Linked DNA regions of Homo sapiens. The protein of the gene in region 3 interacts with the protein of the main gene of each other region in a pairwise test. Each region holds a gene or a part of one and is shown on either strand. Other genes may lie near its edges.

Evidence for each region.
Region 1: the proteins of TBC1D25 (region 3) and LARP1B interact in binary tests that used the Homo sapiens proteins (3 or more experiments, as listed by UniProt).
Region 2: the proteins of TBC1D25 (region 3) and FEZ2 interact in a two-hybrid assay, tested with the Homo sapiens proteins (one study listed by BioGRID).

What each region holds. Positions count from the first base shown.
Region 1 is NC_000004.12:128,055,265-128,065,990, forward strand, and holds the start of LARP1B (la-related protein 1B), read left to right. Parts: upstream 1-6,047; 5' UTR 6,048-6,137; exon of another isoform or gene 6,138-6,429; coding exon of another isoform or gene 6,430-6,955; intron 6,956-10,726.
Region 2 is NC_000002.12:36,579,647-36,590,484, reverse strand, and holds part of FEZ2 (fasciculation and elongation protein zeta-2), read left to right. Parts: intron 1-7,015; coding exon 7,016-7,132; intron 7,133-9,053; coding exon 9,054-9,195; intron 9,196-10,838. UniProt on the Homo sapiens protein: Involved in axonal outgrowth and fasciculation.
Region 3 is NC_000023.11:48,552,876-48,563,109, forward strand, and holds the end of TBC1D25 (TBC1 domain family member 25), read left to right. Parts: intron 1-6,021; coding exon 6,022-6,149; intron 6,150-6,282; coding exon 6,283-6,471; intron 6,472-6,738; coding exon 6,739-8,100; 3' UTR 8,101-9,734; downstream 9,735-10,234. UniProt on the Homo sapiens protein: Acts as a GTPase-activating protein specific for RAB33B. Involved in the regulation of autophagosome maturation, the process in which autophagosomes fuse with endosomes and lysosomes.

The DNA.
Region 1 (10,726 bases), on a different chromosome or scaffold from region 3:
AGGCTGAGGCAGGAGGATCACTTGAACCCGGGAGGTGGAAGTTGTGGTGAGCCAGGACCGAGCCATTCAGCCTGGGCAACAAGAGGGAAACTCCGCCTCAAAAAAAAAAAAAAAAAAAAAAAGACCTGGGAAAGAAAGGCATTTTCCTTTCGAAAGAAAGAAAATGTTGAAGTTAAGATAAAAGATTACGGAGACCAAGATTATTTTTGAAGCCTTATAGTGGCTACGCTTAGAGACAATAGATGACAAATGTTTCCTATTCAGATCTTTAAAAGGTGCTACACTCTTAGTTAATCTCTTTAGGATTTGGAGGGCCTGGAAGAAAATACCTAGCTATGTTAATATAGATTCTTTACAGATGCAAATATCCCCCCCTACAAAGGACAGCTTTACAGGGCCATTTCAAAATATGGCAAAGGAAAGAAAAAAAAAATAGGCCGCTCGCAGTGGCTCAAGCCTGTAATTCCAGCACTTTGGGAAGCCCAGGCGGGCAGATCACCTGAGATCACTGAGATTGAAGCCAGCCTGGCCAACATGGTGAAACACCAACTCAACTAAAAATACAAAAAACTATCCAGGCGTGGTGTCGTGCACTTGTAATCCCAAGTACTCAGGAGGCTGAGGGAAAATAATCGCCTGAACTCGGGAGGCAGAGGTTGCATTGAGCTGAAATCGTGCCACTGCACTCCAGCCTGGGTGACAGGGTGAGACTCCATCTCAAAAATAAATAAATAAATAAATAAATAAATAAATAAATAAAATAAAACAAAATATGGCAAAGAAACATGTTTTGGGGTAAAATATTTTGACTTTCTTCTTTGTTATGCCAGAGTCACACTAGAAAGTAAGTCACAATATATAGGGTTAAATAAAACCCATCTGATGAGAATTTATGGTTTGTAGGGCATGACTCCCCAGACCCCTCAGATAGGAATTTGGGCAAGATGAAAAAAATGAGAGCTTAGTCCTCACTGGCCATATATATATATATATATATATATTTTTTTTTTTTGTAGAGACCGGGTTTCATCATGTTGCCCAGGCTAGTCTCAAACTCCTGGGTTCAGTCTCCTGGGCTCAATCAATCCACCAACATTGGCCTCCCAAAGTGCTGGGATTACAGGCTTGAGCTACTGTGCCCAGCCTATGATTTTCATATAAACATATGAAGCATTTTGATTCTCTCAGATTTTACACTCAGAATACACTATCTACAGTTAATTCTGAACTTTTTCTCCTACTTAATTATATTATAAGAATACTAAGAAGATGAGCTGAGATAGGGTCTTGCTATGTTGCCCAGTCTGGTCTCAAACTCCTAAGCTCAAGTGATTCTCCTGCCTCAGCCTCTCAAGTAGCTGGGACTACAGGCAGCTGCCACTGTGCCCAGCTTTAGGCAGAAATTTAGAACTTGATCTCTTTATTTCATTTCTCATATCCATTAGATTAGCAATTCCTGTTAATGAGATCATTCCCAAAATGTATCTCAAATCATTCCATTGTCCTATGCACTGCCACCTCTTAAGTCCAGACCATCATCATATCATTCTTGGAATACTACAACAACTTCATGTTTTTCACATTTTGCATTTTGTCACTGCCCATTCCACTTCATTTTCCGTATTACAGCAACAGGGGTATTAACTCTTACATCTTTTCAGTGTTTTTCCATTGCTCTGATAGAATTCAAATTCTGTCATAATCCAGAAGCCCCTGCAGGCTCTGCCTTAGGCTATCTCTCTAACCTCATCTTTACTCATGCTTTGTTTTTTTTTTTGTTTTGTTTTTTTGTTTGTTTGTTTTGAGACAGTCTTGCTTTTTCACCTAGGCTGGAGTGCAGTGGGGTGATCTTGGCTCACTGCAACCTCCGCCTCATGGGTTCAAGCAATTCTCCTGCCTCAGCATTCCCAGTAGCTGGGATTACAGGCACCACCACCACACCCGGCTAATTTTTGTATTTTTAGTAGAGACGGGGTTTCACCATGTTGGCCAGGCTGGTCTCAAACTCCTGACCTCAAGTGATCCGCCCGCCTTGGTCTCCCAAAGCACTGGGATTACAGGCTTGAGCCACCACGCCTGGCTGTTTTCTTTTTCTTTTTCTTTTTTTTTTTTTTTTTGAGACAGGGTCTCGCTTGAACCCGGGAGGCGGAGGTTGCAGTGAGCTGAGACGGCGTCACTGCACTACGGTCTGGGCGATGCAGCGAGACTGTCTCAAAAAAAAAAAAAATTAAATTAAATTAAAAAGTTAAATGGAACTGAATAGATCATGTAAGAATGTCTTCATAGCCCAGCGCAGTGGCTCACGCTGTAATCCCAGCACTTTGGGAGGCCGAGGCGGATGGATCACCTGAGGTCATGAGTTCGAAACCAGCCTGGCCAAAATGGTGAAACCCCCATCTCTACTAAAAATACAAAAATTAGCTGGGCGTGGTGGCGGGCGCCTGTAGTCCCAGGTACTCAGGAGGCTGAGGCAGGAGAATGGCGTGAACCCGGGAGGCGGAGCTTGAAGTGAGCTGAGTTCGGGCCACTGCACTCCAGCCTGGGTGACAGAGCAAGACAGAGGCGGTGGCTCTCACCTGTAATCCCAGCACCTTGGGAGGCTGAGGCTGGCAGGTCACCTGAGGTCAGGAGTTCAAGACCAGGCTGGTAAACATGGTGAAACCCCGTCTCTATTAAAAACACAAAAATTAGGGACAGGCGCGGTGGCTCACGCCTGTAATCCCAGCACTTTGGGAGGCTGAGGAGGGTGGATCACTTGAGGTGAGGAGTTCAAGACCAGCCTGGTCAATATGGTGAAACCCTGTCTCTACTAAAAATACAAAAAATTAGCTGGGCATGGTGGTGCATGCCTGTAGTCCCAGCTACTAGGGAGGCTGAGGCAGGAGAATTGCTTGAACCTGGGAGGTGGAGCTTGCAGTGAGCTAAGATCCTGCCACCGCACTCCAGCCTGGGCAACAGAGTGAGACTACATCTCAAAAAAAGAAAAATTAGTCAGGCATGGTGGCACATGCCAGGAGAATCGCTTGAACCCAGGAGGAAGAGGCTGTAGTGAGCCAAAATCGTACCACTGCACTCCAGCCTAGGCAACAGAGTGAGGCAACAGAAAGAGGCCTCTTTCAACAGGCCAGGCGCGGTGGCTCACGCCTGTAATTCCAGCACTTTGGGAGGCCAAGCGGGGGCAGATCACCTGAGCTCAGGAGGTCGACACCAGCCTGGGCAACAAGGTGAAACTCCGTCTCTACTGAAAATACAAAAACTTAGCTGGGCATGGCAGCGCATGCCTGTAGTCCCAGCTACTCGGGAGGCTGAGGCAGGAGAATCTCTTGAACCTGGGAGGCAGAGGTTGCAGTTAGCCGAAATCATGCCACTGCACTCTAGCCTGGACTCCAGCTCAAAAAAAAAAAAAAAAAAACCAACAAAGAAACAAAAAAAGAAAGATATTTATGGCTGGGTGTGTGGCTCACGCCTGTAATCCCAGCACTTTGGGAGGCCGAGGTGAGTGGATCACTTGAGGTCAGGAGTTTGAGAGCAGCCTGGCCAAGATGGTGAAAACCCCTTCTCTACTAAAAATTCAAAAATTAGCTGGGTGTGGTGGCAGGCACCTGTAATCGCAGCACGACACCACACCCAGCTAAATTTTTGTATTTTTAGTAGAGACGGGGTTTCACTGTGTTGGCCAGGCTAGTCTGGAACTCCTGACCTCGTGATCCGCCAGCCTTGGCCTCCCAAAGTGCTGGGATTACAGGCGTGAGCCACCTCGCCTGGCTGATGGCAGTGTTTTGAACCAAATAATTTGTTCTTCCAGACCAGGTGAACACCCTACCCAAGGGCAGATAATCCACAGATTGGCTAATGAATTGTATAATCTGGCTGGAAAAAATAAGTAGGGTCAAGCAGTCTTTTATCCTTAATTTTGAACTATGAAGCAGAGGAAGAGTCTGGCACGTAGCTGCAGAGGCAGAATGAAGTAACAAGATAGAGGTTAATTACAGCAAATTGGGTCAGTCAGATGAAACTAAAATCAGACGGAACGCTCAAATTTTGGAATTTTAAGTTTATTATTAAAAGGACACTTTACAGAGGTGTGAGGCTAGGCGTGGTGGCTCACGCCTGTAATCCCAGCACTTTGAGAGGCCAAGGTGGGGGGATGACTTGAGGCCAGGAGTTCGAGACCAGCCTGGCCAACATGGTGAAACACCGTCTCTACCAAAAATACAAAAATTAGCCGGGTGTGGTGGTGGGCGCCTGTAATCTCAGCTACTCGGGAGGCTGAGGCATGAGAATCGCTTGAACCCGGGAGGCAGAGGTTGCAGTGAGCCGCGATCGCGCCACTGCACTCTAGCTTGGGCGACAGAGAGAGACTACCTCTTAAAAAAAAAAAAATGCCGGGCGCGGTGGCTCATGCCTGTAATCCCAGCACTTTGGGAAGCCGAGGCGGGTGGATCATTTGAGGTCAGGAGTTCAAGACCAGCCTGGCCAACCTGATGAAACCCCGTCTCTACTAAAAATACAAAAATTAGCCGGGTGGTAGTGGCGCGCCTGTAATCCCAGCTACTCAGGAAGCTAAGGCAGGAGCATCTCTTGAGCCTGGGAGGCAGAGGTTGCAGTTAGCCGAGATCACGCCACTGTACTCCAGCCTGGGCAATAGAGTGAGACTCTGTCTCAAACCACCACCACCACCACCATCACCACCACCAATAAAAAATACAAAGCGCCACTAATAACAGAGCTAGTAAAGATGGATGGGAATATAGGTGGAAGTACAATCCCCTTTTAATTGCAACAAGGTTCGCCAGGTTGCTTAGGGTTGGGCAAACTGGAGATCACTGACACGGAAAACAAGAAAACCCTTATTGTTTATAGCTGTTATGTATGAATAGGTTATTAGCCTTAGGAAAATTATTTGTGCCGAATACGGCTTTTGAGTAAGCAAAAAATATTAACGTCAAGTTGAATGTAATTGAAGCGACTTATTGGGCGTGGGGTGGGGGGTGGGGGTTGAAAGCCCAAACATAAGGCGAGCACAGATAATTTATTTAACAAGGCTATGGGGTTGGTGGGGGGCTCGGAAAAAAATCAGCGGCGGAACCTGCTCTCAGCCACCTTGCACCAGGACACAAACACTGACTCAAAAATGAAACGAGTATCATCTCTAAGTGAATGTGAGTGCCAAGTAGAAAGCTCGTATCCGATTTATTATCAAAACGTCTTTGTACCATTTTAACATCCATTCCAGGAAGAAAAAACCTATTGGGAATATGGTTAATTTGTAATTAAGTGCTATTTACCCAAATTAAAGAAACAGGTAACAAAAAATTTTAAAAGCCGGCGAAATACTATTTAATTTACTCAGGAACGCTTTAGAACTCTTTTAGTTGGTGGGTGGGAATGCGGGCGGGGAAGCGCACTAAGCCGAACGCTGGGGCAAAGGTTTCCTAAACAGTTACCGAGAGGTAACTCCCCCTTCATCTGGGACGTGGCTCAAGATTACAGGTGATCGCGGTGCCCCGAGGCGCCAGGAGGCAACTTTCACCTGGGGGAGGCGCCGGGCGCCAGCGGGCCAAGCGGCCGGGCCGCGGAGCCCACTTCACTTGGGAGCTGCCCCAGGCCGGGGGTCGACACCGCGTCCCCTCCCTTAGCCTAGCTGCGACCCAGCTTTAGGGCCTAAGGGCAAATCGAGCGCTCGGTCCTCCCAGCGCCATGTGCGCGGCCCGCCCAGGCCCTTGGCCGCCGTCGCCGCGGGGGCAGGCCGCGAGCCAGCCGCGAGCCACAGAGGCCTGGTGCGCGCTCCGCCCCTGAGCCTGCAGTCGGGGCGGCCTCAGCCAGTGAGCCGGGAGTCGTCCCCTTCGTCCTCCCTCGCACTCGGAGGGCAGCTGGGGCGGGGCAGACCCTCGGGCCGGGCGGCACCCGGGCGGGCGAATCCGTCAGCTCCCGCGGGAGGCCCGGCGAGAGAAGGACCCGGTGAGTAGCCACGTCACGCTCCTCAGGGAGGCCCCGCCCCGTGCTCTCGGGCCGCCCCTCTTCGCCGTCTCCACGCCTCCGCGGGCAGTTACCAGCTTTGGCTGCTCGCGCCTCCCCAACTCGGGTAAAGCTCCTCGGCCTCGGCGTGCTGCGCCTCCGCGGCTGCCCTGCGCCAGGTGAGGGCTCGCGGCTCCCGGCTGCGGCTCCCGGCGCGTGGTGGCGGGCTCGGGGCGTGCGTCGCGGAGAGGACGGGGCCGGCGGGCGGTTGGCGCTCCGTTCGGTGCGGGGAGGGGCGTCACGCCGGGCGCTGCGCGGCCTCGGCGGGCGGCGGCAGCGGCGGCCACGGCCGCCGGGCTCTCGGGTTGTCTGTCCCCAGTTGGAGCCGGCCGGTGTCCCGGCGGAGAGACGGGCAGTCGGGTTCCCTGGCCTCGGGGCCACCCCGGCTGGGGCGGCTGGGGCAGAGGGACGATGTCTACTCGCGCCCCGATGCCCGCCGCCCATTCTCGGGAGGATCCGCCCGCGGTGACTGCTGAGAGGGAGTCGCTGTTGGCCGCGGCGAACCGGCCGGCCGAGCAGCCGCCCCCGCCCGAATGTGAGGGCAAAGAGGCGGCGAGGGAGGAGAGGGCCGCGGCCGCCACTAGCGCTGGGGCGCGGGGAGAGCCGTCGCCGGCGCTGGTGCTGGGACGCAGCGTGCCCCAGGCGGCTGTCCCCGTGAGGCCCCTGGCGCTGCACCTGGCGCACAAGGCGCGTGGGCCCGGGGGCCCTTTCGGCGGGGAGCCGCCACCGCCACCGCCGCCGCCGTCGCCGTTGCCGCCGTTGCTGCGGGATCCGCCGGCCGAGGACGCCCGGGAAGAGGTGGCAGCTGGCCCTGCGGAAAAGCGGCAGCCGCCGCTGCTGCCGCCTAAGGGAAATCCCTGGACCAAAAAGCCTCCCCAGCACCTGTCCCCAGACACGACAGGTCCGCCACCGCCCCCGCTGGAAACCCTGGAGGCAGGTCTGTGGTTGCTCTGCGTTGGGCACTGGCAGGGTGCGGGCAGGGGCGACTTGCGGGACTTGCCGGCGCGTGGCGGCGGTAGCGGGCACCAGGCCCGGGTAACGGCAGGCCTCCCCTCCCTGTCAGTCGGAGGTAATTTGTTCCAAGGTGTCATTCACTCTGCCTATTTACAGACATGGGCATCTGGGAAGGGAGCGGCAGGAAGAGGTGGGACCTCAGGTTCTCCTTGCCTGATGGGGGCACGGAGGTGGTAGCTTGGCGGCGCATCCCTGCTGGCGCGGTTGCGATTGTGTTTTGTCCCCAGTGTTAGTGACTTGGGAAAGTAGCTAACTTTAGATACTGCAGTGCTTCGTATGGGAAAGTTTTGGTAGACTTTTTTTTTTTTTTTTTTACATAAAAGGATTGAAGCAAGTCAGAGCAAGGGGATTTATTCGTAAGTGGAAGCGCGATTGTAGTCTTTTGTGAAATAAGATGAAAAAAGGTTTTCAAAACACTGCTGAGCAGTCATATTAAAAATGAGACTTTAAATGTGGTTTTTAAAGTGCTTTATGGGGGGAGGGGGGAGGGATAGCATTAGGAGATATACCTAATGTTAAATGACGAGTTGATGGGTGCAGCACACCAACATGGCTGCACATGTATACATGTGTAACCTGCACGTTGTGCACATGTACCCTAAAACTTTAAGTATAATTAAAAAAAATAAAGTGCTTTAAGTTATAAGTGTGCTGGAAAATAATTGAAATAGGATAGTTGACATGCGAGCGTGGATTGCACGTTAGGTAAATGGTTTTCTAACATTGTCAGCTCTCCTTCCCTTTAGAGGAGATAAGATTATGCCACTATATTTGAATGCTGACCAATGCTGTATGGCCGTCGGTGCTTTATTTTGATTGTAGTAACTGCAACTTAAGAAAGTAAAAATGGGCCGGCGCGGTGGCTCACGCCTGTAATCCCAGCACTTTGGGAGGCCGAGGCGGGCGGATCACCTGAGGTGAGGAGTTCGAGACCAGGCTGGCCAATATGGCGAAACCCCGTCTCTACTAGAAATACGATCATTAGCCAGGCGTGGTGGCGGGCGCCTGTAATCTCACCTACTTGAGAGGCTGAGGCAGGGAGAATCGCTTGAACCCGGGAGGTGGAGGTTGCAGTGAGCCGAGATCGCGCCACTGCACTCCAGCCTGGTCGGCAGAGTGAGACCCACTCTCAAAAAAAAAAAAAAAAAAAAAAAAAAAAAAGTTAAAATGGAAATAAAAACCATGACAAAAAGCAGTATCTGGCCGGGCGCGGTGGCTCACGCCTGTAATCCCAGCACTTTGGGAGGCCGAGGCAGGTGGATCACCTGAGGTCAGGAGTTCAAGACCATCCTGACTAACATGGAGAAACCTTGTCTGTACTATAAATACAAAATTAACCTGGCGTGGTGGCGCATGCCTGTAATCCCGGCTACTGGGGAGGCTGAGGCAGGAGAATCGCTTGAACCCGGGAGGCAGAGGTTGCAGTGAGCCGAGATCGCGCCACTGCACTCCAGCCTGGGCAACAGGAGCGAAACTCCGTCTCAAAAAAAAACACAAAAAAACAAAACCGTATCTTTCTAAATTAAGTTGTAAATGACTTGAACTTTTTATATGCAAATGACAGCTGTTTACTTGCAAGTCTTCATTTTTATTTAAAATTAAAGGTTAGCAGCAGAACAAGAAATATTTGAGCGTGTTTACTGGCTTGTGAGGATCAAATGCGATGAAGAGGTGGTATAAATGTAAGGCGATTGGCTGTGCGCGGTGGCACACGCCTGTAATCCCAGCACTTTGGGAGGCCGAGGCGGGTGGATCACCTGAGGTCAGGAGTTCGAGATCAGCCTGGCCAACATGGCGAAACCCCGTCTCTACTAAAAATACAAAAATTAGCCGGATATGGTGGTGCGTGCCTGTAATACCAGCTACTCAGGAGGTTGAGGCAGGAGAATCGCTTGAACCCGGGAGACGGAGGTTGCAGTGAGCCAAGACTGAGCCACTGTATTCCAGCCTGGGTGACAGAGCAAGACTCAGTCTCAAAAAAAAAAAAAAAAAAAGTACGGTGATTGTTACAAGCACCCATTATGTTATGTTAACATTTCTTCAGAGGAACTCTCCAAAGAGGGAGATATGTGTTGAGTTAATTCATTCATTTGCCTTTGCACAGAAATACTCCTCATTAATTGTTGATAAATTTTGACACTTGCAGAAAAAAAGTTTGCTCTGGATTTAATATTGGCATAATTCCTTCCTCGCTATAAAGAGCTGTTTGTTTACTCCTATTACTAACTAAAGAGAACATGGTTAAGTGAAGACCTCATAAAGTTTTTCTTTTTTTTCTTTTTTAAAGCCCAGTGGCAAGCACTCTAAAATTTAGCAAAGAAAGAAAACCCTAGTGAATCATCTTATTTGCTGTTTCACCTCTCTACTTCTAGACTTACAGACAATTAAGTGAATTACCAAGTAGGAACTCTTTGTTGATCATAAAACCAGTATCATAGATTTTAAAACTTCGAAGCCATACATGGTAGTGTGTGCCTGTAGTTTTAGCTCCCTGGGAGGCTGAGGCAGGAAAAATCAGTTTTGCCCAGGAGTTTGAGGCTGTAGTGTCCTGTCATAGTGCCTGTGAATAGCCACTGCATTCTAGCCTGGGCAATATAGCAAGACCACGTTTAAAATAATAATATTAATAATAATAATAATGATAATAGAACTTTAAAAACTGTCAAGGTAAGCCTTGGGAACTTTAATTGCAAATGACCTGTGAAAAATATTTAACAGTTAAGCTATTGGTGCCTTCATTCTCCAGTCTTCACTGGAGATTAAGAACACTGTGATACTAGTTGTATGGTATGGTTCATGGAAATTTCAGTTTTGCTGTTGTCTTGTGTAGGCAACTCTTTCTGTCTTTGGATGGAATCCATTCTGCACTGGCAGGAAGACCATCTTTCAGACCTGGCATAGTGTAGTAACCATGGTCTCTTCCCAACACTGACTCTGCACTGTTCTCCCACAATTAATTTCTTTCTTTCTTTCTTTCTTTCTTTCTTTCTTTCTTTCTTTCTTTCTTTCTTTCTTTCTTTCTCTCTCTCTCTCTCTTTCCTTTCTTTTCTTTTCTTTTCTTTTCTTTTCTTTTCTTTTCTTTTCTTTCTTTTTTCAAGAGATGGAGTCTCTCTGTGTTTCCCAGGCTGGTCTTGAACTGCTGGCCTCAGGCGATCCTCCTGCTTCCCAAAGTGCAGGGATTACAGACATAATCAGGCTTTCTATTTTCTTAAGCAAATTTACAACTTCAGGAGTAAAGAAACAGGACCACAGTCTATTTGCAGTTAAATAACTTAGGTAACTTAGATAAAAGAGATTGTGGTGTAGAAACATACTGTTTTGAGAGACTTGGGTTCTAGTGCAGGTATTGTTACTAACTGGCTAGTTGACTTCTGGCAAGATTTCTGGGCATTATAAATGAATAACATGGATAGACTCATTTCCTCTGGTTCATAATACCAGAGTGCCACTTATAACCTGGCTGCCTTGGCTTCCATTTATATATTTATTTAATATTATTTAATTCATTTAAATAAATACATTTTACATTAGTTTATTTAAATAGGTAGATAGATTGTCAGTCTTGCTCTATTGCAGTGGTGAGATCATAGCTCACTGCAGCCTTGACCTCCTGGACTCAAGCAATTCCCCTGCCTTGGCATCCCAAGTAGTTGGGATGACAGGCACGCATGTCATTCCATGGAATTAGCCATGC
Region 2 (10,838 bases), on a different chromosome or scaffold from region 3:
TGTTGGCCAGGCTGGTCTCGAACTCCTGACCTCAGGTAATTCACCTCCCAGAGTGCTGGGATTACAGGTGTGAGCCACTGCACCTGGCAGTGATGATGCACTGAAACACTCAGTAAAATTTGGTGCACTGAAACCCTCAGTAAAAATGCTAGCCTTTGGTTTAATATACTGAGAGTATTGGAATCTCAACACGGAGTTAACTTTTTAATGAGTGTAGTGACCTGCTAGACATGATATGTTGTCAGGAGACTGTGTATTCCTGTGAATACTGGAGAACCTTTAAAAGATATTTTAGTTCTTGGCTTTTAAAATACGGTCTTGGCTAACTTACCTTTCTTGGGGTCTCCTGTGTACATCCTGGTATTGTAAAGTGAAGATGTCTTGACTAAGAAGTGTGAGCACGAGTGGTGGGACAGGTAGGGAGGCAGAAAAGGGTTGAGAATTACTTGAAATGGAAAATCACAGTGTTAAGCTTTTTTAAATCTGATGAGAAACATATCCAAATTATCTAAGTTTCAGGGCCTGGCTGTTTAAGTTCCTTATCAAATAATAATGTAAACTCATGCCAGATCTTCTTGCGTGCTCTATATTTCATTAAGTGTAATTATGTGATTATTGAGAATATAGTGCAGTAGGCCTGTCACTATTTTACATAGTATTGTTAATGTTTTGTTAAAAGGATTTTCTTACATATGTGATCAGAAAAGCCTACTGTTATTATTTTCTAGTAAAATGTAGAATTCTGGCTGTATTTCCCAGTATTCAGTAGCTATGGAAATCTTCCTGACTGTGCCAGTCATTAATCCCATTAAGCTTTGCAGACTGACCTGGCATATATTTAATGAAAAGGAATAAAATGAGGGATCTTTTGCTCTGTCTTGTTTACTTAGGTCCTGGCTATCATTTTGGGCTTAGTTCAAGTTTCCCTTCCTCTCTGAAGCTTCCTATTACTGTTTTAGCCTTTGCTGATCTCATGGAATTATACAATTTTAGAGTTGGAAGGGGCTTTAAAGGACACTTAATCCAGCCTCTCACTTGGGGGGAATCCTCACCTCCAGCATCTCTGACAGATGGTCATTTAGCCATGGCCTAAATTCCTGCACGGAAGGAAAACACACTCCCCTCTAGGGGAACTGATGGCACTTGTGGGGTTGTGAACTTTGAAAGGACTTGTTATCTGTGCCACGGGGTTTAGCCTTGCTGTCTCATGGGTGCTAGTCCCCAGATCACTTTGTCCCTGTCTCTAAAATTACCACTGCCTTCTCTTGTTAATCATATGTTTCTGGGTCTGTCACTAGATTGTGACTTCCCGGCAGGTATTTGTATTTGTCTTTATAGTAACTATACTGTTCCTGGCACATAGTAAGTTTGAAGATACCTTTTTATTGAGTGAATAAGTGAATAGCCTTGTCAGTGAAACTGTAGGGCCAGAGATCGTGATAGAAAGGTTTTAAAAAAATATTTTCTATGTTATTTAAAATAATGCAGAATGCACCAAAACCAGTCCATGGGTACTACTTTTTTGACATATTAAAAAATAGCATAGAAGAGTTTCCATTCATAGTTTCAAAGTCAGGCCCATTAGCAGCGTGAGTGAGACAGTTTAATCCAATTTCATTGACTAAATGTACAGCGGGCCCACCATATTCTCTGGTTTCACATCTGCTGCTTTAGCCAACTGTGGATTAAAAAACTTGAAAAAAAAACCCCACAATAAAATAACAACACAACAATTGAAAATAATGAAAATAAAAAACCGAAAACCGATACAATATAACTTTATAATATAAATATTGTATAGTTATATACAATATAACTATAAACCATTTACCTTGTATTAGGTATTATAAGTAATTTACATATAATTTAAAGCTTATAGGGGGATGTGCACAGGTTATATGCAAATACTACCCCACTTTATATAAGGGACTTGAGCATCTGCAGATTTTGCTATTGGGGTGTCCTGGAACAAATTTCCCTTGGATACCGAGGGACTGCTGTATGTCTTGTATTGTTCTTAGATTGCATCTTGGGAGGTTGCTCCCTTTTGCTGCCTTTTGAATGTTATTTTCAATGCCACGGTAATGATATGGCCAAGGCAGTGATTAGTAATGACGTAGAGTTTAATGCTAGTACTGACATTAAAAAGCCTTACCTGGCTGGGCGCGGTGGCTCATGCCTGTAATCCCAGCACTTTGGGAGGCTGAGGTGGATGGATCACCTAAGGTCAGGAGTTTGAGACCAGCCTTACCAACACGGTGAAACCCCGTCTCTACTAAAAATACAAAATTAGCCAGGCGTGGTGGCGCATGCCTGTAATCCCAGATACTTGGGAGGCTGAGGCAGGAGAATTGCTTGAACCTGGGAGGCAGAGGTTGCAGTGCGCCGAGATCACGCCACTGCACTCCAGCCTGGGTGACAGAGCGAGACTCTGTCTCAAAAAATAAAAAAAAAAACAGCCTTACCTGGAAAAACTCAGCAGATGAAAGTGAACACGTGATCATTCACCTATCATCTCTCTGTTGTGACATGACTATTCTGGTGATGAATAGAATTGAAATCAGAACTCTGTTTCTCAGGGAGGATTAGCACACACTGAGTTTCTGAAAAACAAATGGGCAATAAGGACTATGTAAGAAGTCATCACGTCATTCTATTACATGGTATATAATTAAGCATTTTTTTTTTAATCTGGCAAAGTGACTGTATTTACCATTGCCACCTGGTGCTCTGTTCGTGCCGTGACTAAGCTATGTAAAATTTACCCTTTGAAAGCATTCTTTAGATTATTTTACTTATAAAACCAAGTGTATAGAAATTTTTTTTGACAAAAGAAGAATGGTTTTTGCATTAAAAAGAGAAAAACATTCAGGAAAACTAGTTTGCTAGATTGCAGTTTTAAATTTTTCTTTGATTGAAGATTAAGATGGCACACTTCTAAATTTGATATGTCTTTTTTAGAGTAAGGCAACTGGTATCTTTCAAATTCTTACGTGGGCACATTTTTTCCATTTGATGTATCTTCAGTTTTATACAGGGAAACAGTACCACCAGGTCTGTATCTAACCCTGGCATTGGAAGGAGTGATGGGAATGCTTGGCAAAGAGAAGGCACATTTAATGCTGAAGGGAGGAGTGAATAATGATACCCATGACAGCCAGGGCTAGTTTGCAAAGCCTGAAAGATATTCCAGCTCTTAGCATATGCCATCTCTGTGGGGAATGGACTTGGCTCTCTCTCTGGAAAGATGATCTGGGATCATTTCTGTTGTCATGGAAATTTATTATAATAGTTTACTGTTATTACTCATGTGTTTTGGCCATAACCCTATTCTAAATCTGGTGCCATTCTTGAATATACTTATATGATAGAATGCTTATCATTCATTTCAGCTTAAGAACATCTTCTGTGCTGTATTTCTCCTTCCATGTGCATTTCTTTCAGGACAGGGACTTTTGTATGCATCTTTATACCTTTAAGAGTAGAAATAAGAAAAAGATAATGTCTTCCACAGAAGCAATTTGATTGATTGATAGATTGAGAGAGTGTCTCCCTCTGTTGCCCAGGCTGGAGTACAGTGGCGCCATCATAGCTTACTGCAGCCTCCAACTCCTGGGCTTAAGCGATCTTCCCGCTCCAGCTTCCTGAGTAGCTAGACTACACACGAGTACCGCCATGCCTGGCTAATTTTAAGAAAATATATTTCTGTAGAGACGAGGTCTTCCTGTGTTGCTCAGGGTGGTCTTGATGTCCTGACCTCAGGAGATCCTCCCACCTTGGCCTCCCAAAGTGTTGGGATTACAGGTGTGAGCCATGGCAACCTGGGCTTCCTTAGGAGTAATTTTTTTTTTTTTTTTTGAGACATGGTCTGGCTCTGTTGTCCAGGCTGGAGCGCAGTGGCACCATCTTGGCTCACTGCAACCTCCACCTCCTGGGCTCAAGTGATCCTCCCACCTCAGCCTCCTGAATAGCTGGGACTACAGGCATGTGCCATCATGCCTGGCTAATTTTTTGTAGCAATGGGGTTTCACCATGTTTCCCAGGCTGTTCTCAAACTCCTGAGCTCAAGCAATCCACCCGCCTCAGCCTCCCAAAGTGCTGGGATTACAGGCATGAGCCACTGTGCCCACCCCGGATTAATTTTAAAATTAAAACTTTTAGTATTTATAAGCCAGAAGGGGAAAAATAAAACAAAATCATGGTCCTCAAGTTGCAACATAGGAAGAGTGATTGGGAAGGGGGTGTGAAGTGTTCGAAGTGTAAGGATCGATGAAACTAATCGGTAGGTCTACTCCATGGTATCGACATGCCTTTGTGATCACAGTGTGCCACATTTTCATCTTCTACAGTATAGAAATCATACATCCCCTCTCATCAAGAGCCTAGTCTCTTGATCTTTCTCCTTCTTTAAAAAATTAAATTATTAAAGGAACAGCTGTCATAGTTTAAAAAGTAAATTAGAACTATAGGACTTAAATGAAAAGGCAGTCTCTGCTCCACTTGATTTCTCCTTACCAGAGGTGGCCACTTTAAATGATATCAGCTATTTCTTTTAGCAGATAACATGCTCATGCCATTTTACTTGATATTATTTTCTCAATTTTAGACTTTATTTATTTTCTACCCAGAGGGTGAAGGTTTAGCTCTCTTCTGTCCTTTGCCAATCCCTGACACTATACCCTCCCAAAAACTTCCCTTTCCCCATCTTCCCAATGTAATTACATAACATCTGGGGTTGAATTAATCTTCATCATTTATATTTACTATTTAAATGTGCACAGTTGACCCATTATGATATATTATGTTTACATTTTCTCTTTTTCTACTTAGGTTTTTTCTTAGGATACTACCTGCCTTTTTGTGGTTTATTTAGTTTATAATTAGCTGACCAGTTCAGCCTCAATAGAGCCGTAGAACTCATTTTAGTAAATGGACCGCACTAGGTAATCTATCTAGTCCTTCTGCTCTCCCTCCCCACCCACCTCTCCCTCTTCTCCATGCTCTCTGCAATAAAAATTCTAATCTGAATGTTACTCTCTAGTGTAGCTTTACAGTCATCATTCTGGGATTTTCACTTTACTATCATTACGAGAATTCTCTTTGTCACTTGTTATTAGACCACATATCTTTTTTCTTTTTCATTTTCCTCCTGGTAGCTTTTTGAGAAAGGGCACATGAGAGGTAAATTTTTTCAGAACTTGTATGTCTGAAAATGTCTTTATCCTAGCCCCTGCCTACTTGTTTTAGCTGGATATAGGATTCTAGGATGGAATTTCTCCAAACATGGAAGTTACATCGATTATTTTCTAGCATCTATTGTTGCTATTGAGAATTCACTTGACATTTTGATTCCTGATCCTTTTAATGTGATTTTTTTTTCCCTCCCTGGAAGCTTTTAGATTCTCCTTTTTTCCACACAGTGTTCTTAGTTCATGATGCTGTGTTGAAGGTCATGGCCAGGCCTTTGCTAGGCTGATGGTGCAGTAAGAAATAAAATGAGAAGGGCTGTCGTCACTGCGCAGGAGCCTGGAGTTGCATTATAGGGTTGTAGGTGGACCGTGCAGTGTTGATGGGGCCCTTCTCCCAGCCTAATGTTGGAAAGTCAGTGTGCCAGTGCTTCTTCCCTTGGCCCTTCTCACGTGCAGGTTTCTTACTCTGTAGGCTGTGTTCACCTGCAAACTTCAGATGCTCATGTTATGAAGAACTAGGGAAGCAGTAGGAACCTACATCCATTCCATTGTGTCCTCAGCTTTAGACATATATCCTCTGCATGGATAAATAATTTTGCCAGGTAAAATTTTATCATGTTAGTTCTACACTATGTAATAGAATGACATGGTGGCTTCTTACGTAATCCTTGTTGCCCATTTATTCTTTGGAAACTCAGTGTGTGCTAATCCTTCCTGAGGAATAGAGTTCTAGTTTCAGTTCCATTCAACACCTGAATAGTCATGTCATGACAGATAGGTAGATGATAGACAGATGTTCCCTTGTTCATTTTAATCTGCTGAGTTTTTTCAGGCAAAGTTTTTACAATCAGTACTGGTACTAAACTCTAAGGCTGTTTATATTGGTGTGGGCAGGGTTAAGGGAAACAAACTTGATGTGGTGCAATCCCCCAGGGCTGGCAACAGAAACTGGTACTTTAGCAGTCCTGGGCATGAAGAGGTAAGGAGAGGGAGAAATTACCATAAACTGTTGAGATTGGCCTTGTGGGAGAAGTCTGCTAATCAGAGCTATGGCTTTGGTGAAGAGCCATAGTCAACAAATGACAGTCTGACAGGGAGGAAGACAGCAAAATACATGCCCAGCCTTCACCATCCCACCTTCCAGTCTGCCAGTGTCTGCCAATGGGGTTTAACCCACCTGGAAGCCAGACAGCAAGGGCATCCTTTGATGTCTTCCATAAAGGTCGTCCTCCTGGAGCGCAGAGCAGGGTGGAAGATGGTGAGGAGGTGAGTGGTGAATCACCAGCTTAGTTAGGTTTAAAGATGTTTTTGGAACCTAGGGTTATTATTTTTTGTTAAGAAGGAATGTGCAATTGGAAGGGCTAAGTGTGACGCTCATGGACAGATCCCGCCTTTCAGGGAGTTGATCATCTTTTACTCAGATATTAGAAGTTAGTTTGCAAGTAACTAACTTTTATGTTTTCTTTAGAATGTTAACGTCTACCAATCTTAGTGTGTGTTGCTAACCCTGCCCATATTCTCCCTTCTATTCACTGTAATTCCCTATGACTTGCTAATGAATACCGTATTTTTTTCTGCATATCTGTCAGCTTTTATAGCAGTCTTATGCAGCATCTCAGTGATTTCATATTTATTCTACATTCTTCTCATTTCTGTTCAAGATGAATATATACTCATTGCCTGGTACAGAGTGATTGTAATAATTTCTCCCTCTTGAGGGAAGGCTCTTAGTAGTTGCTTTTCTCTGCAGCCTCTTTTACTCAGAGCTGTTAACTTTGTTTTGATGAGGATGTCCTGCTTTTAATGATGGGTATTTTTGTTTTTAGGTAAGTGACAGTTTGCTCTTTGATACATCAGATGATGAAGAGCTGAGAGAACAGCTGGATATGCACTCAATCATCGTCTCCTGTGTTAATGATGAACCCCTCTTCACGGCAGACCAGGTATAGAGGAGATCCTCAGCAACGCAAGGAAAGGAGACTCTAGAGCTGAAAAACGGCTTCTTGTTATGACAGTAAATGATGGCTGTTGGTTTACTTATCTTTCCTATTTTTTTCTGGTTATACAGGCTTAATAGTTAACTCTTCCACAGAGAAAAATAAGTATTTGTGATCTGAAGCAGAAGGGATTATGTTAGTTGGGAAGGTTTCCAACAGAGGCCTTGTTGAAGATTATAGCAAGGTACCAAGGAAAGGTTGTTGCTTAACCCCAAACCAGAAAAATATTGTGAATTTCCTTGTTTCTTTAGATTTACCCAAACACGGACAAACTGTAAAGTATCTGTGTAGAAATTATTTAGTATCTTCAAAACCCTGGGTAAAAAGCATTAGCATGTATTAAAGTAACATATTGTGTGCCCCAGAAAGAAGTGAGCATTATTCCCGTGGAATGCGCTAATAAGGTCAACCCTGTATTCACTTAAAACCAGTCGAATCAGCTTTCTCATTTTCTGAATACTCTTCCCACCTCTGTTGTATTGTTGAAATGTGATGCCAGAACTTCTTCCTGAAATAAAATGTTCCATGGCTACTCGGACTGTGAGTTCTACCACACTCTATTTTTAGGCTGGAAAGATGAGATCAGTAAGGAGATACATTATGGCAAGCTTGGGAGGAGTACATTAAAAATTTACATTAAAATTGTGTTATTTGGATCCTCCTTAGTCATATTTGTGGTTGAATTGTTCTAGGCGTGGGAAGAATGTGGTGCTTAAAAAAGCAAGGTAATAGTAGGTTGGAAGGTTGTTTTGAGGTAGAGGGTAATCTAGGGATAGACATGACCTTGAGAATTCATTGTCCCCTCACTGACCTGCCTAATACCGTAAACTCTCCCTTTTTTTAAGAGTTAGAATAACAGATTCTGTAGGATCCTTGAGTGGCTCATTGTACCTTATTATATTTCCTGTTTTGGAGACTCTTCTTATAATTAACATAATCCCATCTCCTTCAGATTTGCCTTTGTTTTTCCTTGGTGGAAATCTTACCTGTTAAGCTTGTTAATTCATAAAGCATGGAAATATGCTCATGATGTCTTACTCCTTCATTTAATTGTGTTTAATTTTTTTTTTTAACTTTAGGTCCTTTTTTCTAACTATTGAGTAATTTTCCTGGGTTTCCTTTACATTTTCGCTGAGTTCTATATCCTTCTCAACTTTTAGAATCTGGAAAAGGGCAAGATACTGTTGTAAGATTTGAGCAGCACTGCACTAGACAGTAGATCATTGTTTAAAGTCAAATGTATTTCTGAAGTTTTTCTGCTTTTCACAGCATTTTTCTCTTTGGACTTCTACTTTTTGAGTAATTTAAAAAATCCCTTTTTTTCGTTGAATTAATATATAAAATTATTTTTCTGCTGTTGAAAGAATATTTTGCTGTCATAGAGGTAATTTCCCATTTATATATACTTTTTTTGTGCTATTGTATTTTATAAATTTTATGTCAGAATTTTTGATGAGATACCTTTAAATTGAGCACTTGTATGTCTATGGTAAATTTTCTGTTATTTGCTTTCTTCTAACGATTACTGTATGATCTAGCTCTGGTGTGTCTGAAGTAAATTATTATGTGTTTGTAGCACGATTACCTAGACTTTGCAAGACATGTTAGGGCCTTCTGAATCATGATGGACGTAGTAAATCCAATTCTATTTAGGTTTGTGTTTAGTATATTGTAATTTTTTCTTGATAAACCATGTTCACTCCTACAGTAAAAATTTTGATTATTTGGAGCATCCACACCTGAACACCATTGGTTAATGGAGAATTCAGTGCATTTCTGCTCTGGGTGCCTTAGGTGAGCACTGTGTTCCAGATAGATCATTTTCCTTTTGTATATTTGATTAACAGTGGTGTGTGTGTTTTCGAAGGTTATTGAAGAAATTGAAGAAATGATGCAGGAATCACCGGACCCAGAAGATGATGAAACCCCTACACAGTCAGATCGGCTTTCAATGCTTTCCCAGGAAATTCAAACTCTCAAGAGGTCTAGTACCGGCAGTTATGAAGAGAGTAAGGGAGCCTGCTGAAATCAATGATTTCTGTGCTTTTTGTCTGTATCAAATGTATAGTATGATCATCTCCAGAAAGCTTTGATTTCATCCTCCTTCTGTTTGTGTTTGTGTCCAAATTTACATTTTTGTTGTTGTTGTTGAGACGGGATTTCACTTTTTGGCCCAAGCTGGAATGAAGTGGCATGATTTCAGCTCACTGCAACCTGTGCCTCCCGGGTTCAAGCAATTCTGCCTCAGCCTCCCAAGTAGCTAGGATTACAGGTGCCCGCCACCACGCCTGGCTAATTTTTACATTTTTAGTAGAGACGGGGTTTCGTCATGTTGGCCAGGCTGGTCTCGAACTCCTGACCTCATGATCCGCCCGCCTTAGCCTCCCAAAGTGCTGCAGTTACAGGCGTGAGCCACCATTGCCTGGCCCCAAATTTCCTCTTACAAGGACAGCAATCATATTGGATTAGGGTCTATCCTAATGACCTTATTTTAATGTAATTACCTCTTTAAAGACCATATACTGTAACATTCTGAGGTACTTGGGGTTAGGACTTCAACACATGAATTTTGGGGAGGACACAATTGAGTCTATAAGAAACCCCATCATATTTGAAGTGTAGAATAGATATTCAGTAATTATTTGTCAAATGCAATTCCTGTTTGTACAAATAGTCTTGTGTGTTACTATGAAGAATTTTGGGAACCATGGATCTGTTTGACATATGTGAGAATAATGAACTCTAGAAACTCTACAGTTGATTTTCATGAAAAATGTCTGAATAAATATAACCAGCCTGTGAACAGCCTGAGGCTGGTTGGAAGGTGTGTATCTAATCATTGCCATATGACTGGTCCCTTCCTTGAATAGGCACTGATGGGGTCTGTATCTGCTCAACTCGTGTTGTCACCTAGTTTTATCTTTATGGCATGCCCAGTCCAAAGCTTAGTTACCTAAAGACCTTTGGGTTGTATGGCTTCAACATACAGATGGTCAGACAGACCAAATTCTTTCAGATGGTCTGATTTGGCCATGTTCCTGTAGGTATGGGCTAAACAGTGTTAACGTCCTGACTCCCAAATACAGTCCTGATACCTGATACAGATACTAAAATCTGTATTGGTTTGCTAGGGCTGCCAGAACAAAGTACCACAGAGTGGGTGGCTTAAACAACAGGAATTTATATTCTATAGTTCTGGAGGCCAGAAGTCTGAGATGAAGGTGTTGGCAGGTTTGGTTTTTTTCAGAGGCCTCTCTCCTTGACATGCAGATGGCTGCCTTTTCCCTATGTCTTCACGTGGTCTTCCTACTGTGTCCTGATCACCCTATTTTATAAGAATACCAGTCATGTTGGGTTAGGGCCTATCCTGATGCCCTCATTTAACCTTAATTTACCTCTTTAAAGACCCCCTCTCCACATTCTGAGGCCCTGTGGGTTGGGACTTTAACAGTGTCCTATCTGTCACAAGGGGCAGAAGTGCTGAGAAAAGACTGAAATGGGGTTTCAGGGAATATTGTTCCCTTTTGTCTTCCCAGTTTTTTTAGTCCATTCTTGCACTGCTATAAAATGCCTGAAACTGGGTAATTTATACGAAAAGAGGTTTAATTGGCTAATGGTTCCACAGGCTATACAGGAAGCCTGGTAGCATCTG
Region 3 (10,234 bases):
TCTTCCCAGGTTCAAGCAATTCTCCTGCCTCAGCCTCTTGAGTAGCTGGGGTAACAGAAGCGCACCACCACACCCGGCTAGTTTTTTTATATTTGGTAGAGATGGGGTTTCACCATGTTGGCCAGGCTGGTCTTGAACTCCTGACCTCAAGTGATTTGCCTGCCTCGGCTTCCCAAAGTGCTGGGATTACAGGCATGAGCCACCACACCCAGCCAATTTTTTTTCTTTTTAAATTCCGGGTTATCATTCTGTTTTCTTACTAACACACTAAGTCACTTATGTTTCAGGAATCCTAATGTAACATATAATATTACAAACCCCCAATCATGTTATCGTTGTCATTTTAACTATAAATATTAAATATGTAATATATATAATATAATATATAATATATAAATATTACCATTTACCTTCCCCTTTGTCTCTCCCTATCTTAAGCCCTTCTAGTCATGCAGGAGTCATTTGCTCAGAGAACTTCTTTGTTCTCCTCCAAAAGTGCATGGGTTAGATGTACTCTAATGGCCAAAAATGTTTTTATTTGGCTGAATAGATCTGTACTGTCTTGGCTGGGTGTGGGGCCCTTGGATCTCAGGTCTTTCTTCTTAGTGCTCCATAGGTGCTGTGAGCTACTGTCTTATTGCCTCCAGGGTTGTGAAGCAGAAGTCTGTTGCTTGTCTGACCTTCTTTCCATTGTAAGCAGCCGTTTTTTGTCTCTGGAAGCTGCAAGAGTTTTTCTTTTTCTTTTTTTTTTTTTTTTTTTTTTGAGGCAGGATCTCTATTTCCCAGGCGGGAGTGCAGTGACGTGATCTCAGCTCACTGCAACCTCTGCTTCCCAGGTTCAAGCGATCCTCCCACCCACCTCAGCCTCCCGAGTGGCAGGGACTACAGGTGTGCGCCACCATGCCCAGCTAATTTTTATATTTTTGGGTAGAGACAGGGTTTTATCATGTTCAGCCCAGGCTGGTTTTGAACTCTCGGGCTCAAGCAATCCGCCCGCCTTGGCCTCCCAAAGTGCTGGGATTAGGCTGGGCATGGTGGCTCATGCCTGTAATCCCAGCACTTTGGGAGACCGAGGTAGGCGGATCACTTGAACTCAGGAGTTCGAGACCAGCCTGGCCAACATGGTGAAACCCCGTCTCTACTAAAAATACAAAAATTTGCCAGGTGTTGTGGCGCACACCTGTAGTCCTAGCTACTTGGGAGGCTGAGACAGGAGAATCGCTTGAACCCGGGAGGCGGAGGTTGCAGTGAGCCAAGATCACGCCACTGCGCTCCAGCCTGGGCAACAGAGCAAGACTCTGCCTCAAAAAAAAAAAATTGCTGGGATTACAGGCATGAGCCATTGCGCCCAGTCTAAGAGTTTTTCTTTATTCTTAGAATTTGGGCATTTCGGGCTGGGCGCAGTGGCTCACGCCTGTAATCCCAGCACTTTGGGAAGCTGAGGCAGGCGGATCACTTGAACTCAGGAGTTCAAGACCAGCCTGGCCAATGTGGCAAAACCCTGTCTTTACTAAAAATACAAAAATTAGCAAAAATTAGCCGGGCGTGGTGGTATGCCCCTGGAATCCCAGCTACTTGGGAGGCTGAGGCAGGAGAATGGCTTGAACCCAGGAGGCGGAGGTTGCAGTGAGCCGAGATCATACCATTGTGCTCCAGTCTGGGTGACAGAGCAAGACTCCATCTCAAAAAAAAAAAAAAAAAAAGGATAGGGTTGGTGGGGGGCCTGTTGTGTGTTGTTAGTTAATTAATCCTATCTAAGACTTGGTGAGCCATTCCTTCATCTCAGGGAAATTTTCTTTCATACTTGTTTAATTCTGACATCTCCACCTGATCCCTTTTCTCCCCCTGCATTTCCTATTATTTCCATATTTGGTCTCCTGGACTTGGCATCCAGGTCTCTCTACTTTTTCACTCAAATCATTGAACCTTAGCTCCATGCCTTGCAGTGGTTCTTCTGTTCAGACTTTCAGACCATTACTGATTTTTCATAATGTGACCTTCTTCATTTTACCTGTTAAGTGTTTTAATGCTCTGATTAATGTTTTAGAAAGACCATTCTGGCAGCTGTTGGGAGAGATTGGAGAGGAATACAGAGGAAGTGAGGACTGGTTAGGAGGCAGTTTCAGGTGAGAGATATGGTGGCTCAGACAGGGTGAGAAGATGGAGATGAGAGAACAGGTAGGATGGAGGAATGCTTTACATGCAGTAGCCGTAGGACTTGGCGGTGGTTTGGACCTGGGAGTTAAGAGAGTGGGAGGGGGACAAGGATGTCTCTCAGGTTTCTGGTCTATTAAACAACTGAACAGATAGAGATGCTGTTTGTTGAGATGAGGAGTAGAGGAGGAGGCCATGTCTAGAGTGGATCTTGGGCTCCTCTCTTTGGACCCCTTAGGTTTGCAGTACCCCATGAGACATCCAGGGAAAAGCAGTGACATGCAAACATGGCCTAGGGTTTGTTCCCCCCCTCAGCTCTATGGGAAAATTGGGCTCCATGGGAATGCTGTTTAGGGATGGCATTTGCTTGCAAATGACAGTGGCTTAAACAGATAGAAGTTGATTGGTTTCACACAAAAGAGTTTGAAAGTTAGCCACTTGGGCCGGATGCAGTGGCTCACGCCTGTAATCCCAGCACTTTGGGAGGCCAAGGTGAAGGGGGCCTGCCCCTCCACACTTGTGGGTATTTCTCGTTAGGTGGAGACGAGAGATTGAGAAAAGAAATAAGACACAGAGACAAAGTATAGAGAAAGAACAGTGGGCCCAGGGTACCGGCACACTCAGCATGCGAGGACCTGCACCAGCGCCGGTCTCTGAGTTCCCTCAGTATTTATTGATCACTATTTTTACTATCTTGGCAAGGGGAGTGTGGCAGGGCAACAGAGTGTTGGTGGGGAGAAGGTCAGTAGGGAAACATGTGAGCAAAGGAATCTGTATCATGAATAAGTTCAAGGAAAGGTACTGTGCCTGGATGTGCATGTAGGCTAGATTTATGTTTCACTTTACACAAATATCTCAGTGTAGCAAAGAGTAACAGAGCAGTATTGCTGCCAGCATATCTCGCCTCCAGCCACGGGGCAATTTTCTCCTATCTCAGAATAGAACGAATGGTCGGCTTTACACCGAGACATTCCATTCCCAGGGACAAGCAGGAGACAGAAGCCTTCCTCTTATCTCAACTGCAAAGAGGACTCCCTCTTTCACTACTCCTCCTCAGCATAGACCCTTTATGCGTGTCGGGCTGGGGGATGTAAGGTCTTTCCTTTCCCACGAGGCCATATATCAGGCTGTCTCAGTGAGGGGAAACTTTGGACAATACCCAGGCTTTCTTGGGCAGAGTTCCCTGTGGCTTTCCACAGTGCATTTTGTCCCTGGTTAATAGAGAATGGAGAATGGCGATGACTTTTACCAAGCATACTGCCTGCAAACATATTGTTAACAAGGCACATCCTGCATAGCCCTAAATCCATTAAACCTTGATTCAATACAGCACGTTTCTGTGAGCACATGGTTGGGGCTAAAGTTACATACAGATTAACAGCATCTCAAACCAGAACAATTTTTCTTAGTACAGATCAAAATGGAGTTTCTTACATCTTCCTTTTCTGCATAGACACAGTAACAATCTGATCTCTCTTTCTTTTCCCCACATAAGGCGGGTGGATCACCTGAGGTCAGGAGTTGGAGACCAGCCTGGCAAACCCCATCTCTACTAAAAATACAAAAAATTAGCCAGGCGTGGTGGCAGGCACCTGTAATCCCAGCTACTCGGGAGGCTGTGGCAGGAGAATTGGTTGAACCTGGGAGGCAGAGGTTGCAGTGAGCGAGGATCACACCATTGCACGCCAGTGTGGGTGACAGAACAAGACTCCGTCTCAAAAAAAAAAAAAAAAAAAAAAGCCAGCCACTGGACATTGCCATTGTTGGCTTAGTAGCCCTCTCGTATCAGGGCTGTAGGAGAGGATCTCTGAAGATCCTCTCGAACCTACTCTCAGATGGCCACTGCTGCTTCAACCACCACATCTTATGTGAGGTGGGAAGAAAGAATGCGGGGCAAAATGAAAAAGAAAGAGAAACGGTCAGGTGCAGTGGCTCACACCTGTAATCCCAACACTTTGGGAGGCCAAGGCAGGAGGATCTCTTGAGCCCAGGAGTTCAAGACCATAGGCAATATAGTAAGATCCCATCTCTACCAAAAAAAAAAAAAATCATCCACGCATGGTGGCACACGCCTGTAAGCCCCAGCTACTCAGGAGGTTGAGGCAAGAGGATCGTTTGAGCCCAGGAGTTTGAGGCTGCAGTGAGCTATGATCGCACCACTGCACTCCAGCCTTGGGGGACAGAGCAAGACTGTCTCAAAAAAAGAAAAAAAAGATGCCTGTAATCCTAGCACTTTGGGAGGCCAAGGCGGGCTGATCACCTGAGGTCAGGAGTTCGAGACCGGCCTGGGCAACATAGCGAAACCTCATCTCTACTAAAAATACAAAAATTAGGCCAGGTGTGGTGGCTCATGCCTGTAATCCCAGTACCTTGGGAGGCCGAGGCAGGTGGATCACCTGAGGTCGGGAGTTCGAGACCAGCCTGACCAACATGGAGACACCCCGTCTCTACTAAAAATATAAAATTCACCAGGCATGGTGGTACATGCTTGTACTCCCAGCTACTCGGGAGGCTGAGGCAGGAGAATCACTTGAACCCAGGAGGTGGATGTTGCAGTGAGCCGAGATCCCGTCATTGTACTCCAGCCTGGGCAACAAGAGTGAAACTCCGCCTCAAAAAAAAAAAAAAAATTAGCTGGACCTGGTGGCAGGCACCTGTAATCCCAGCTACTTGGGAGGCTTAGGCAGGAGAACTGCTTGAACCCAAAAGGTGGAGTTTGTAGTGAGCCAAGATTGCACCACTGCACTCCAGCCTGGGCGACAGAGTGAGACTCCATCTCAAAAAAAAAAGAAAAAAGAGGCTGGGTGCAGTGGCTCACGCCTATAATCCCAGCACTTTGGGTAGGCCAAGGCGAGTGGATCACGTGAGGTCAGGAGTTCAAGACCAGCCTGACCAACATGGTGAAACTCCGTCTCTACTAAAAATACAAAAATTAGCTGGGCATGGTGGCAGGCACCTGTAATCCCAGCTACTCGGGAGGCTGAGGCAGGAGAATCACTTGAAACCAGGAGGCAGAGTTTGCAGTGAGCTACGTTCACACCACTGCATTCCACCCTCGGTTACAGAGTGAGACTCCGTCTCCAAAAAAAAAAAAAAAAAAGCATATACGGCATACCTGTTCCACTTTTGCACAAATATTTTATTTCTAAAGTATGTCTGGGCTCTGGACTAGGGTGAATGAAGTTCAGATCCCAGCCCTACTATTTCCTGGCTGTAGAATCTTGGTCACTTACTATTTGTTCCAAACCTTTTTGTCATCGTCTGTAAAATGAGAATGGTAATATTAGCGTGCACTGTTTGTGGGAGGAGGACTGGCAAAAATATGAGAGTAGGAGTTTGGGCTCTTGAGCTTGGGCCTGGCCTTCAAATTTCCACTCTTTCACTCACTAGCTAAGGGGCCTTGGGCAAGTACCTTATCATGACTGTGCCTGTTTCCTCAAAGAGAGTCATGGTAGTAGTAGTACTCAACCGATAGGACTGAAGTGACTATTGCATGAGTCAGTATTGGCAAAGAATTCAGAATAGTTCCTGGCATACAGCACTGTGGAAGCATTAGCTAGTATTATTATTTCTTATATTGCTGTTGAGCGCTTGTCCTAGTGCTTGGCACATAGTAACTGCTCAATAAATATTACTTTATATCATTAAAATATTAGAGGCTGCCCAGCCAGTTCCTGAGACATCTACTACAAAAGAATTGTTCATGGTTTGATTTTGTTTTTTACATGATTTGGATGATACAGGAAGAGGGACTGGGAGTTGTTTGTTCCCCTGCAGGTAGCCCGGCTTCAGTAGAAGGAGAGGAAGCCGGCCCTGAGGTCTGGGTTATCATCCCCATTCTTATAGCACTTTGTTCTGTTTGCCCAGGCCCATTGCTAGAAGACTGGGACATAATCAGCCCCAAAGATGTCATTGGCTCCGACGTGTTGCTGGCTGAGAAACGGTCATCACTGACGACTGCCGCCCTGCCCTTTACACAGTCCATCCTCACTCAGGTGTTTTCAGGGACCCTAGGGACCCAGCTGTGGTTGGAGGGCAGAGCCTTCCTGGCACCCTGGTTCTGAGCATGCTGGTTGGCATCTGCCCCTAGTCCACACAGCTGATGGTGGCCTCCCTCCCTCCTCATAGGTGGGCCGTACCTTGTCTAAGGTCCAACAAGTGCTGAGCTGGTCGTATGGGGAAGATGTCAAGCCCTTCAAGCCACCCCTGAGCGATGCTGAGTTTCACACGTACCTGAACCACGAGGGCCAGCTCTCCCGACCCGAGGAGTTGCGCCTGCGGATCTATCATGGCGGTGTGGAGCCCTCGCTGCGAAAGGTGAGCATCCTCAGTCATCTGTTGGGTCCATCACTGCTGCACTCATTAACAGCTCCTGAGACACATGCAGTCAGCCACACTGCTGTGGGCAAGGGTGGAGATGTTACAGGGCACGAAGTTCTCTTTAAGGAGGGGCGAGCAGTCGGAGGCCTAGCAGACTTAGAAGGAAGACAGAGGCCCAAGGGGGGTGGGTGGGTGGCAACTGATAGACATTGGGGTATGGTTTATCTGGAGAACTCCAGCCTCATCCCTTTCACCCCTGGGCAGGTGGTGTGGCGGTACCTGCTGAACGTGTATCCAGATGGACTGACAGGCCGAGAGCGGATGGACTACATGAAACGCAAGAGCCGCGAGTATGAGCAGCTCAAGAGCGAGTGGGCCCAGCGAGCGAACCCTGAGGACCTGGAATTCATCCGCAGCACGGTCCTCAAGGATGTACTGCGCACTGACCGGGCCCACCCCTACTATGCGGGGCCTGAGGATGGCCCACATCTACGGGCGCTGCACGACCTGCTCACCACCTATGCCGTTACCCACCCACAGGTGTCCTACTGCCAGGGCATGAGTGACCTTGCCTCACCCATCCTCGCTGTCATGGACCATGAGGGCCATGCCTTTGTTTGCTTTTGTGGCATCATGAAACGCCTGGCCGCCAACTTCCACCCTGACGGCCGCGCCATGGCCACCAAGTTTGCACACTTGAAGCTGTTGCTGCGACACGCTGACCCTGACTTTTATCAATACCTGCAAGAGGCAGGCGCTGATGACCTCTTCTTCTGTTACCGCTGGCTGCTGCTGGAACTCAAGCGTGAGTTCGCCTTCGACGATGCCCTCCGCATGCTTGAGGTCACTTGGAGTTCGCTGCCCCCTGATCCTCCTGAACATGAGGTAGAGCTGGTTGGACCCCCCAGCCAAGTGGCAGACGCTGGTTTTGGTGGCCACAGGGGGTGGCCCGTGCGACAGAGGCACATGCTGAGGCCTGCTGGTGGAGGAGGTAGTACCTTTGAAGATGCTGTTGACCACCTGGCCACAGCCAGTCAGGGGCCTGGTGGTGGGGGGCGTCTCCTGAGACAGGCCAGCTTGGATGGCCTCCAGCAACTCAGGGATAACATGGGCTCCAGGAGGGACCCTCTGGTCCAGCTGCCCCACCCAGCTGCCCTTATCAGCTCCAAGTCCCTCTCTGAGCCTTTATTGAACTCCCCAGACCCACTGCTCTCCTCCTTTTCCCACCCTGATTCCCCATCTTCCTCATCTCCACCATCCACCCAGGAGGCCTCTCCCACTGGTGATATGGCTGTAGGATCCCCCTTGATGCAAGAGGTAGGCTCCCCGAAAGACCCTGGAAAGTCCCTGCCACCTGTACCACCAATGGGCCTGCCCCCACCCCAGGAGTTTGGCCGGGGGAACCCATTCATGCTGTTCCTCTGCCTGGCCATCCTGCTGGAGCACCGCGACCACATCATGCGCAATGGGCTGGATTATAATGAGCTGGCCATGCACTTTGACCGCCTTGTGCGAAAACACCACCTGGGGCGCGTCCTGCGCCGGGCTAGGGCTCTCTTTGCTGATTACCTGCAGTCAGAGGTGTGGGACTCAGAGGAGGGGGCTGAGGCCACAGCCGCATCTTGATCAGGCTTTCTCAAGCCCTCCATCGGCCCCACCAGATCTCCATTCTTTGCCATGAGGGCCAACACATGAGACCCCACCTCCCTCCCTGCCTGCCAGCCCTAGACTTGTTGGAGCATAGAGCCCTTCCTCCCCAGGCCTAAGTATGTGGAGCTCTGCTTTGGCACTGCCCCGCAGAGGCCACGCCTATTTATTCTGTTTCTGTTGTTTTGTTTTTAACAACTATACTTTGCACACATGAAGGTCACTGTGGTTTGTGTGTTTCTCTGCCTCCTCCCTGGGTTTTGCTGTAGATGGAGTCCTCAGGGGCCCTTTACCTGATGGAGGGGAAATACTTCACTTGGTGGAGAGAGGCTCCAGCTTCCCCCTTGTGATGGGGAGAGTGGATGCTGACAATCAGTTCCCAAAGGTGAGCCCAGGTGGAGCACTGCTTGAGGAAGGCCTGAGTCTGTTTTTTTGGTACATCCATCGGCCTGTAAGGGTCTGTATTATGGCTGTGAATATATGTTTTCAGGACAGCCCCCTGGATGAGAGATAAGAGAGTTCCTGGCTCAAAAAAGGACAAGATTCTTTACTGAGATTGGGAAGTATGGGCTACTTAGAAACGTTGGAGCAGCCACCCCTGGCATTCCACATGTCACCATTTCTAGGATCTTGGCCTCTCTGTGAGGTTTATGCACCAATGCTGGCAGCCCTGGGCAGGGGCCTCGGCCTCCTTTTTGTTTTCCACTTCAGACAGGTACCGTGCAGATGTTAACAAGGTTTGAGCGAGGTGCATCTCACACAAGTGTGAAAGCCCAATCATCACATTGTTGAATTACAAAAGGATCTAGGGCTCCTATTCTTGTCACTTGCTTTGGAGCCAGTTTGAAAGACTGGCCTAGCCCATGCCTAGCGGCCCTAAACTGGGATTCCAGCTCACAGCACCTGTCTTAACCATTTCAGCAGTAGAAACCACTTATTTACCTTCTCCATCTCACTAATATGGACAAACAACAAGCACTGATAAAACGCAGGCCCTAATAGAATTCACTTCGTTATTTGGAGGATAATGATCAAAAAAAGGTCCTTTTTCCCACTGACATGCTCAGAGGGTGGGATTCTCTCACAGGCCAGGTGCTGTCATCCACAAAGGATGGGTGAAATAACTGGGGTCCTCAGGTCACGGTCTAGCCACACCAGCTTCTCCCAAGTACTAACCAGGCTTGACCCTGCTTAGCTTCAGAGGTCAGACAAGATCTGGCATGTTCAGGATGGTATGGCTGTAGACCAGGCTGGGTTCTGGCCAGAGCTGTTGCACTAGGCAATGCTGCCAGAGATGAGGAGGCATCAGGGCAGTCATCCCTTCTGCTGTTTGCCCCAAGAATGCCATACAAACCTGGGGATGACCCTTAAAAGTCTCCCGTCACCCCCAGTATTGGGGGGAAGCTGACTATTCCTCAGATGATAGCCCAGTCACTTGAAGAACAGGACAAGACTATTCTGTGTCTAGGGGGCTCAAGCACTGTGTGTGGGTCTAACGAATGCATTTTGTGGAAATGGGCTCAGACTCCCCAAAGGGCCATCCAACCTATGGGAGTGTCTGGCCTTCTGAGGTCCTGAAATGTCTCTTTTGTCAGTAAACAGCTAATACCCTCTGGGATGCATTCTGTGATTTATGAGCTCAGGTGTTTGAAGGACCAGACAAGCCAATTCTGTGGATAGTAGTTTGGGACCTCTGAGAGATAGAAGAGTCCTTTCTGTGAATAGGAGGCTCAGATACCCTGAAAGGCAGAAACCTCTAATATTCCTCTAGGATACTTGGGGTTTCTGGTTCCTGCAAAGATGGCAGACAGCACAAGCTACTGATTCCTTTGCCCGAAACCAACTCTGGAGAAACTAGAGAGGGAAACATGGGTTCCAGAAATTGCAACATAGCAATGAGAGACCCATGGGGAAATGGAAGGCTGTCTTTAACTGGTGTGTGTTTTGACGGGCGGATGGCCAGAGGCAGTAAATAGAGGATAGGTTAGGGAAAAAGATATTTAAGTTCTGGCTCTCACCTCTCCCCTATATTGCCTTGGGGAGGTCCTTGTTTGCCCCCTTCATTGCATTAATCATCCAAACCACTGGTACACATGTCTGGGGGACTAGGATC